Regions from separate parts of the Homo sapiens genome. Here region 2 is linked to region 1. Evidence: fine-mapped expression QTL. Tissue or cell type: whole blood. Region 1 holds a variant in brackets; the other region holds the start of a gene. All regions are shown on one strand. Distances are between the middles of the regions.

Region 1 (4,262 bases):
TGAGTAGTAAGCTACTATCAGAACGTTAAGGCTAAGAAAATGTCACTATGCAATGAAAACCATCTCCTCCTCTAATAAGTACTAACAGAATAGGAGGCTTGACTTACTTGCATGCTCCTCATAGAACGTTTTGGTTCATGGCTATGAAGAGGTAACTGCAAAAAGATGTGTGCAGATCCCGGTACTGGTAGGGGATATACAAGTGGGGAATAAGAAAAAAGAAATTAAGCAAAATGTCTTTACTCAAGGATCTCTATAAAAATTTATTTTTAAGAAAGCCTGAGTAAGCATGTATATTTTTTTCCTGTGACTTTAAGTGTAATGACAGCATTAAAAATAAATTATGCTGTCAATATACAAAAAATATCTTTTCATTATAAGCATATATAAAGCCTTCTGCAACTATTACATATCACTTTATCGAATCCAAACTTTTTTGCTTGTTCCCTTTTGTGGTCCCTAGTTTTTCACATCCTCATAGAGGACAAAAGCCTTTAGAGATCCATCAATTCAACCCTTTCATTTCACAGATAAAGGAGGGTAAATAGTTTGCCCACAGTTACATTCATCCTCAGTGGCAGAAATTGGACTAGAACCAAGTCTCATGATCCCGAAGAGGGCTTTTCTCATTACATGACATGACCCATTCTCCACCCCATCCCTGATCTCAAGTGGACGATGCTCCCTCAATCTCAGATGGGCAGAAGGGCTGTGGAGGAAAGAAACAATCCTGTTTGGGGCCTCTCTGGCTTGTTAGGAGCATGGGGCTCTAGAATAGGAGGTAATAAAATACATCTCCTTCTATCCAAAGTCTTTATAAATAACCTATCACACACACACATGCACACAGTCAGGCTACTTTGAAGACCTAAATGAGAAATACTTCCTGAGAAGAGAATTGTGTGTGACGGAAACTTTTAAAGCTTCCATAAGAGAGGTTTTTGATTTAAAAAGTGAATATCTGGCCACTCACACAGTTATACGCCTTTTAGAAGCTCTGCAAATAAAGCCATAGTTACAAATGATGACTAATATGAAGAGATTTAAGCCCCAGGGGACGTCTGAACACCACTCCACGAAGTCCCTAACTACCACACTATCAAATGGGCTGTGAATCGGTGGTGGGAAATGCCTCCAAATATGCAGATTTCAGCAGAAAATACATTTGACTGGGTTCTTTTAAAAAGTTCCACCATTCTCACATCTATTTCTGATTTTATATGCATCAACGCTTAACATGCTAAATGTTCTATTCTGGCAATTCATATTTCTGGGTGATAGTACCCGAATGCTTATTGCAACATCCATGAGAGGTGCCTCAGGAGGAAGTGTGATCAGATCTCCTGGGGCCATTTTTTTTCTGTGTCCTTTGAGATCAAAATTCAGAGAATAAAAGTGTTGTCACATTTTTAAAAATGTCTGTCATACAAGTTTTTGTTCAAGGTTCAATACAAGGAATATGGATTGAGAATTCCTTTTTCATATCCATGAACTAGGAAAATTGTGAAAGAAAAGTCCTTGAAACTCTGACAATGTCAAGTTTACTGAAACATCAAAAAGTACCACAATTTTATAGGCTGTCCTGCAGAAATTTATCTTTCTTGTGCTCCATAGGTTTCTTTAAGGTGAAGACTCTCTTTTATTTAAACATTTCCTAGAAACTGCTTTCTCAAGTGAAGATTAATCATTTGGTTTACAAAACAAGAGCCAGCCACATGTTATATGTTTCATCTCAGGCAATAAATTGTCTTTGTACCATATTTCTTGTCTCTTTCCATATAGTTTGTTGTGTCTTATACACAGACTCCTGAAAAATTCTTTCTACTTGTGTAGGAAATCCACGACTTTCTTCCTCTAAGGCATTGATGGTTTGGAGGGCAAAGGGAGTCCTTTCTCGGGGAAGGGGATTGTTCAGGGGCCGCATGGGTATAACAGAGTTGTATTTATGCTGCCTGTTAACGGAGTTCATTAGGGACGTATAGAACTGGAAATTACACCAAGTATCTCTTAAAAAGTTTTCAGTCAGTAATAAGATTGTCCATGCAGACCCATTTACAGCATCATCTAAATTCTGTAAATGCTGTCTGCCACATGGCATCTCAGCAAAGATTATTCCGGGTTTGATACCAAAGTCATCTTGTAGCAGATTCTGGACTCTGAGGGCTTCATCTGTGTCATCTTCTGCATGCAATATCACAAATTTGAGGAACACCTCTTCTTCAGCTTCTTCTTCAAACATCTCTTCCACGCTCTGAGCTCCCTCCTGCTTTCCTGTTGGCCCCTCTGTTGTATTGCTGTGCTCAGCAACATTACACAAGGATAGATCTTCAGACTTCTTGGAATCTGACTCATGATATCCTGGACTTGTATCCACACTGTGCCTTTTACCCCAAGAGAGAGAAAGAGGGCAGGAATTTATTTTAGACTTCCCGATACCCATTATAAATATCCAAGGCAGAAGAGGAAAACTTTATGTATTTCTCAGCATTTCTTTTCAATCTAAAAGAAGTAACAAAACAGAAGAATA[T/C]TATAAATTTAATCAAAACATTAAAAATGGAAACTTTCATTCAAACTGAAAAGCTCAAAAAGATTATAATAGACAGATCCAAATACATAAACGACAAACAGATAATTGGGAAGCTAAACTACTAATCTTTTGTGAGCTTTACAAGGGCTATCACAGGCAGCGAAGGGAACATTAAATAAAGGGTCCAGTTTAATATAATAGGAGACATTCGGAAAATGTAAATGGTGTTATATTAGCACTACAAACCTCCAGATTGAAATAAATTACGTTGGTATTTTTGTGATAGGTACCATACCGCTTTATCTTTTCATGCAGTTTAAATCTAATTTCTCCATTATCAAATTACCATGTAGACTAGAAACAGGAAAATATAAAGAAACTGAATATTCAATTAAGCATAAATATATTTCTGTATCAAGCACAAACAAAATAGAACACAAATATCCTAACAATGACTGGCAGCATCTCTACTGACAGCATAAACAGAAGATCTGAAATGTCAAGTGAAATGATGTCCAGGATTTACTGGTTCGGAGCTTTTTTTTGTTTGTCTGGAGTCAGGCATTGTGGTGATGGTGAATCTAATGGAGAATAAATTATAATAAGAGTGTGTGAAAAGTAAGAAATATCTTTTTCCAACGAATCCTGTAACTACTGAAGAAAATATATTTATTCACCTAAGGAAAAATTAACATCTCAGTTTGGAAATGAACTCTAGAAACAAAGACTTGAGACTTTCTCCAGTGAAATCAACAAAGAATGATTATAGTCTAGATTCATTCTTGTTTTTGTTGTTATTTATTTATTCATTTATTTATTTATTTATTTTTTGAGACAAGGTCTGGCTCTGTTGCCCAGGATGGAGTGCAGTGGTGTGATCTCAACTCACTGCAATCTCTGCCTCTCAGGCTCAAGCCATACTCCCACCTCAGCTTCTGGAGTAGCTGGGACTACAGGTACATGCCACACACCTGGCTAATTTTTTTTTTTTTTGGTTTTTTTTTTTTTTTGGTAGAGATGGGGTTTCATATGTTGCCCAGGCTGGTCTCGAACTCCTGGGCTCAAGCAATCCTCCCGCCTCAGCCTCTCAAAGCTCTGGGATTACAGGTATGAGCTACCACGTCTGGCCTAGACTCATTCTTTTATTTAAAAAAATTCTAAATTCAGAGTGGAAGAACTAGATCAACTGTGAAAGAAAAGTATACCATGTGAATCTAATTTAAATAAGTCTTCAGAAAACATTGGCAATATTCCTAATAAAATCCCCCAGACAGGCAGTTTCAAGGGGAATTCTTTTATTAAAAGACAGAACATTTAGAATATATAAATACAGGTTTCATACTTTCAAATGTGAGCCACAGACTATATTCCAGAGCATTTCTACTTGTTCTTTATGGGCAAAGGCCATACCTCAAGAAGAAATTATAACATTCATAACAACATAAGTAACATGGCTACATATGCCTACATAATTCAGGTTTAGAAGAAACTGTTCAACAAAAGTGGTGAAAACTGTCATGGGAACAAAAACCAAGGAAAAAAACAGAGAATTTCATTCAATGTATGTGAGTAAAAATGTTTGCAGCTGCCTCTGACTAGTGAGGAAACTGCTGACCACTCCGTCATTCACTCTGTCTGTACTTTAGGTTCTCGCTCCACGGTATATTGTGCTAGTTACCAAGAGGTATTCTAAGGCATAATAACTCTAAAATGTGACATATATCCATCCAAAATA
Region 2 (4,111 bases), 22 kb after region 1:
GCTAGAAAAATATGGCCAAGAAATGAACTCTGTGGCATACTAAGATTTAGTGGTGGGGAAGCCTGGAGACACAATGAAGCAGAATGAAATGCAGAATATGGTGACCTGGAAGCCAAGTGAAGAAGAAAGAATATTAGTGAAGAACATTAGTGAAGAAAAAAGAATATTGAGGAGGGAGTGATCAAATGTTACTGAGGGGTCAGGAAAGATGAGAACTGTGCACAGACACTGGATTTCACAAGACAGTCATTGGCAACATCAGGACCATGCAGGGGGTAATGGGGACAAAAAGCCTCAGATGAGAGGGGGTAGGAAGAAACAGGGAAAATGAAAATGGAGACTTAGATTAAATCTTTCAAAGAGGATTTTTGTTTGTTATAAAAAGAAGCAAAGTAGGGGAGCGGGACCTAGAATGGGATGTGTGGTCTAGGGGGGATTAAAGACAGAAGATTTAACAGCAGATATTTGTTAAATGAATACATTTTAAGAATAGCATAAGGAACAAATGACTCAACACAGATGCCCATGATTCAACAGTGTAAACATGGTTTATACTTCAAGTTCCATACGGTAAGGCGTACATGTCACATTTACTTTGCTTCAAATGTAGGTGTCAATATTCTATACCTGCTTATCTATTTTCTGATTTGAATGAGATATAAAGTGGAGTTGCTTAACTCCATTTATAACCATCCTACTACTTCAAAATATTAAAATGTAAGGATTGATGGGCTGATAGGTGCAGCAAACCACCATGGCACACGTTTATCTATGTAACAAACCTGCAAGTCCTGCACATGTATCCCAGAACATAAAATTAAATTAAACAATAAAAAAATAGAAATACAGATTCTGGAAATCAAGCTTACCAAATTAAACCTTCAGAGGTGGGGGGATGCATTTTAAACAAAAGTCCCAAATGCGTCTTACCATCAGGCTTGTTTGAAAAACACTAATCTAAGGAATACTAAACACTTGGAGAAGGACAAGTTCTTCTCCTGTGTAGACGTGCAATGTGGGTTCAGGGGATGACACTTCAACTCTATATAATGGTGTATTTTTACCTCCAGATCATATAGCCTTTCCCACCCTTGCTTTTCAAAATTAAAAGGATAAATTAAAAAATAATAATAAATATGAGAATATTTTAAAATACTTTCTTTAAGAAGTTTACTACCGTGGAAAGCTGGAGAGGTCCTAATACACTGAAAACTAGCTCACAGCTGCCAGTCAAATTATTTTTATCCAAATTAGCTTTGCACAAAAAGCCAAGTAGGAAAACCCATGCCAAAACCTCCAGCACTGGCTCTGTGTGCCTGGCAGGGGCTCATGCAGAGCCTTTAGAGCATTTAAGACTCTGGGCTATTTGCTTATGGTTCTGAGGTGTCTTTTCGAAAATGGGTTTTCTAGTCAAAATGAAACAAAAAGGCAGACAGCTGTGTGGATTTTCCCTTCAGAGTAAGCCAAGTGACGGAAAGGCCTGCCCGCCCCGCTGGGGACAACAGCGCCAGCACCCGCGCCGTCGGGTCGGGTAGGCTGGGGAGGTAGCGCAGGCGGCCTGGCCCCCAGACCACCCCGCGCCCCTGGCGGCCTGGCCCCAGCCCACCCCGCGCCCCCGGCGGCGGCCCCCGCCCTAGCGCCCGGTACTTGCCTGCAGGCGAGCGCCACCACAGTCAGCCCGCGGCTTTTCTGTCTTCCTTTCTGGCCCAGCGAGAGCGCCCAGGGGGTGGGCGTCTTGCCCCGGGCGTCGAGAGTTTGGGGCCGTCCCGTACGCGGCGCGCCGCAACCCAGTCCCCGCGACCACAGCAGCCTGCTCCCCACCGCGCTTGCAGAGCCCGGACGCGCGTGAGTCGGGGGCCCGCAGAGGCCTCACCCTTGGAGGTCGCCGCTTGTCAGGCCTGACTGCTGTTGGCGCCCACCCCGCCGCCCCCGAGGGGCCGCTCGAGGCCGGACTGCTGCTTTGCCGTGGCAGGCCCCACCCGGGACGTGGCGCTGCGGGCCGGGGCGGTCCAGCTGTGAGTCAGGGGTTAATGTGGCGGGATAACTCTCTGCAGAGGGAAGGAGCTCGCAAAGAAGGGTGGAGGAGGGGAAACCGCAATGGGGAACTGTCACCGAGGCTAGTGGACTCTCCCTGCGCTTTTTTTTTTTTTTTTTTTTTTGGCATGTACCCCAAAAGCCAGAGGTCGAGGCCCAGAAAAATCTGGAAAGGAATTCCACCGTGTTTGCTCCTTACAGACCAGACAAACCGTAGATCTTTCAGAGGTACAGCGACTCTCCTGGTTCCCTAAGATAGTCTCGACTTTTCCTTTCCCTTTGCGGCCCTCTCACTTGACTACTGCAGCCAACCATACCCCTGATTAGGGGGTGCAGCACATCAGCCTCTGCCCCCAAAAACTACCCTGCGAAAGATCCTTTTTCTCAGGTTCGTTCTCCACAACCGAACAGATTGGAACTCCACTGAATAAGAGAGAACAAAAAAGCAATTAGTTAAATGAAGCGTAAAGAAGCCTTATAAAGCCCCATTGCTGCCTCAGGCACCCAATCTAGTCATAACCTAAGAGGTCCAGTTCAGAAATCTCCCCTCCCCTTTTAATTCTCAGGCAATCCCTACTCCCTGCCAAAGGAGAACCCAGTTACTGAACATCGGATGAGACCATGGATAGTAAATTGGGAGTGAAGGTCCATACCTGGGTCTCAGAAGCACAGTACAGGTAAAGCTAAGAGTTATTTCCTCCTTCTCTTTCCCCATCCAACAACAGGATGCCTTACTGAAGGTAGGCACTTCAGGTAGTAATTACTTAGTGAAATGCCGCCAATGTAGTCAGAAATACCGTATTATGTACCGTGTCAACACAATTCATTATTCACGGAGTTGATTCTCCAACCACTGCACCTCCCAACAATTCTACCTGAACTCTTTGGGTAAGCAGTGGCCTCCTAAATCCAACTGATACTTTTGTTGCCCTCATTTTTCCTGGGAGTCTCTTTGGCGATTGACAAAGTCGACCATTGTTTCCCAACACTCTGTTTCCTTGATGTTGACAACCCCACTTTGCCTTTATGCTCATCCTGCTTGTTAAAATTCTTTCAGGCCTGTTGGGAGGCCGAGGCGGGTGAATCACGAGGTCAGGAGATCGAGACCATCCTGGCTAACACGGTGAAACCCCGTCTCTACTAAAAAATACAAAAAATTAGCCGGGAGTGGTGGCAGCTGCCTGTAGTCCCAGCTACTTGGGAGGGTGAGGCAGGAGAATGGCTTGAACCCGGGAGGCGGAGCTTGCAGTGAGCCGAGATCGCGCCACTGCACTCCAGCCTGGGCCACAGAGTGAGACTCCGTCTCAAAAAAAAAAAAAAAAAAAAAAAATTCTTCTTTCAGTTTCCTCTGCCTGTTCCTCTTTCTCTGGCAACCCTTCAAAATCAGAGCTTTTCACATTTTCCCACTGAAATACCACCAATGACAGATTCCATAAACACGTACTTCCCTATTCATCACTTAGGTTGCATACATAAAAGAGCCTGAAGTCACTAGTGTCATGGGCAAATTTACTTGAACTGTTCCATCTTCTTGTAAATTGCTCCAAATTTTGCATTGTTCTTCATAATACAGTCACATGTACTAAAAAAAATCTTAAATTGGTTACAAGTTTAATTGCTTAACATTTTCTCTCCAAATGTTCAAGAAAATGCATCAATCACTTACGCCACATATGTTTAGAATATATTCTATGTGCTAGACATTAGGGATATTGTGCGAACAGGAGACACAGTCCTAGTTCTCATGGAGATTTTATAGTCTAATCTGGGAGACAGACAGATATGTAAAGAAGTGAGACAATTTCAGATCCGTGCATTGCTAATGGGGACAGCGAATCTTCCTAGTGGGCAATTTCTAGCTACATACCTGGTTATTCACATTCAAGAAAGGAGGGGACGACATGACAAACTGATAAATATACTGACTTACAGGCAGTGTCTAATGGATTGTCCAGCTTTTAGGTTCTTGGAAAGAACAAAATGGAAAATTTGTAAAAGATCTGTCCGTGAGACTTACAGATAACCCTCTTGGAGTGGTGAGGGCATGTGAAGATATTCATATCCCCCATAAGTGCCT

Evidence for each region. PIP is the estimated chance that this variant, and not a neighbour inherited with it, causes the effect.
Region 2: TICAM2 starts here. The variant in region 1 is fine-mapped to the expression of TICAM2 in whole blood (TOPMed, PIP above 0.99).

Annotation. Positions count from the first base shown.
Region 1 is chr5:115,578,817-115,583,078 of GRCh38, forward strand. TMED7-TICAM2 (TMED7-TICAM2 readthrough) reads right to left here. Exons shown (of 4, transcript NM_001164469.4): 4 at 1-2,499. The coding sequence ends at 2,499. It overlaps TICAM2 (TIR domain containing adaptor molecule 2), which reads right to left. Exons shown (of 2, transcript NM_021649.7): 2 at 1-2,499. The coding sequence starts at 2,440. The coding sequence ends at 1,733. Among named protein-coding and RNA genes, the nearest start is that of TICAM2-AS1, 21 kb to the right of the region's middle. The variant T/C (reference allele first, on the strand shown) is at 2,528.
Region 2 is chr5:115,600,446-115,604,556 of GRCh38, forward strand. TICAM2 (TIR domain containing adaptor molecule 2) reads right to left here and starts at 2,034. Exons shown (of 2, transcript NM_021649.7): 1 at 1,652-2,034. The region is part of intron 3 of TMED7-TICAM2 (TMED7-TICAM2 readthrough); the gene reads right to left. It overlaps TICAM2-AS1 (TICAM2 antisense RNA 1), which reads left to right and starts at 1,710. Exons shown (of 3, transcript NR_109875.1): 1 at 1,710-2,015; 2 at 2,601-2,711. RefSeq lists enhancers at 1,356-1,435, 1,384-1,906 and a silencer at 1,526-2,025.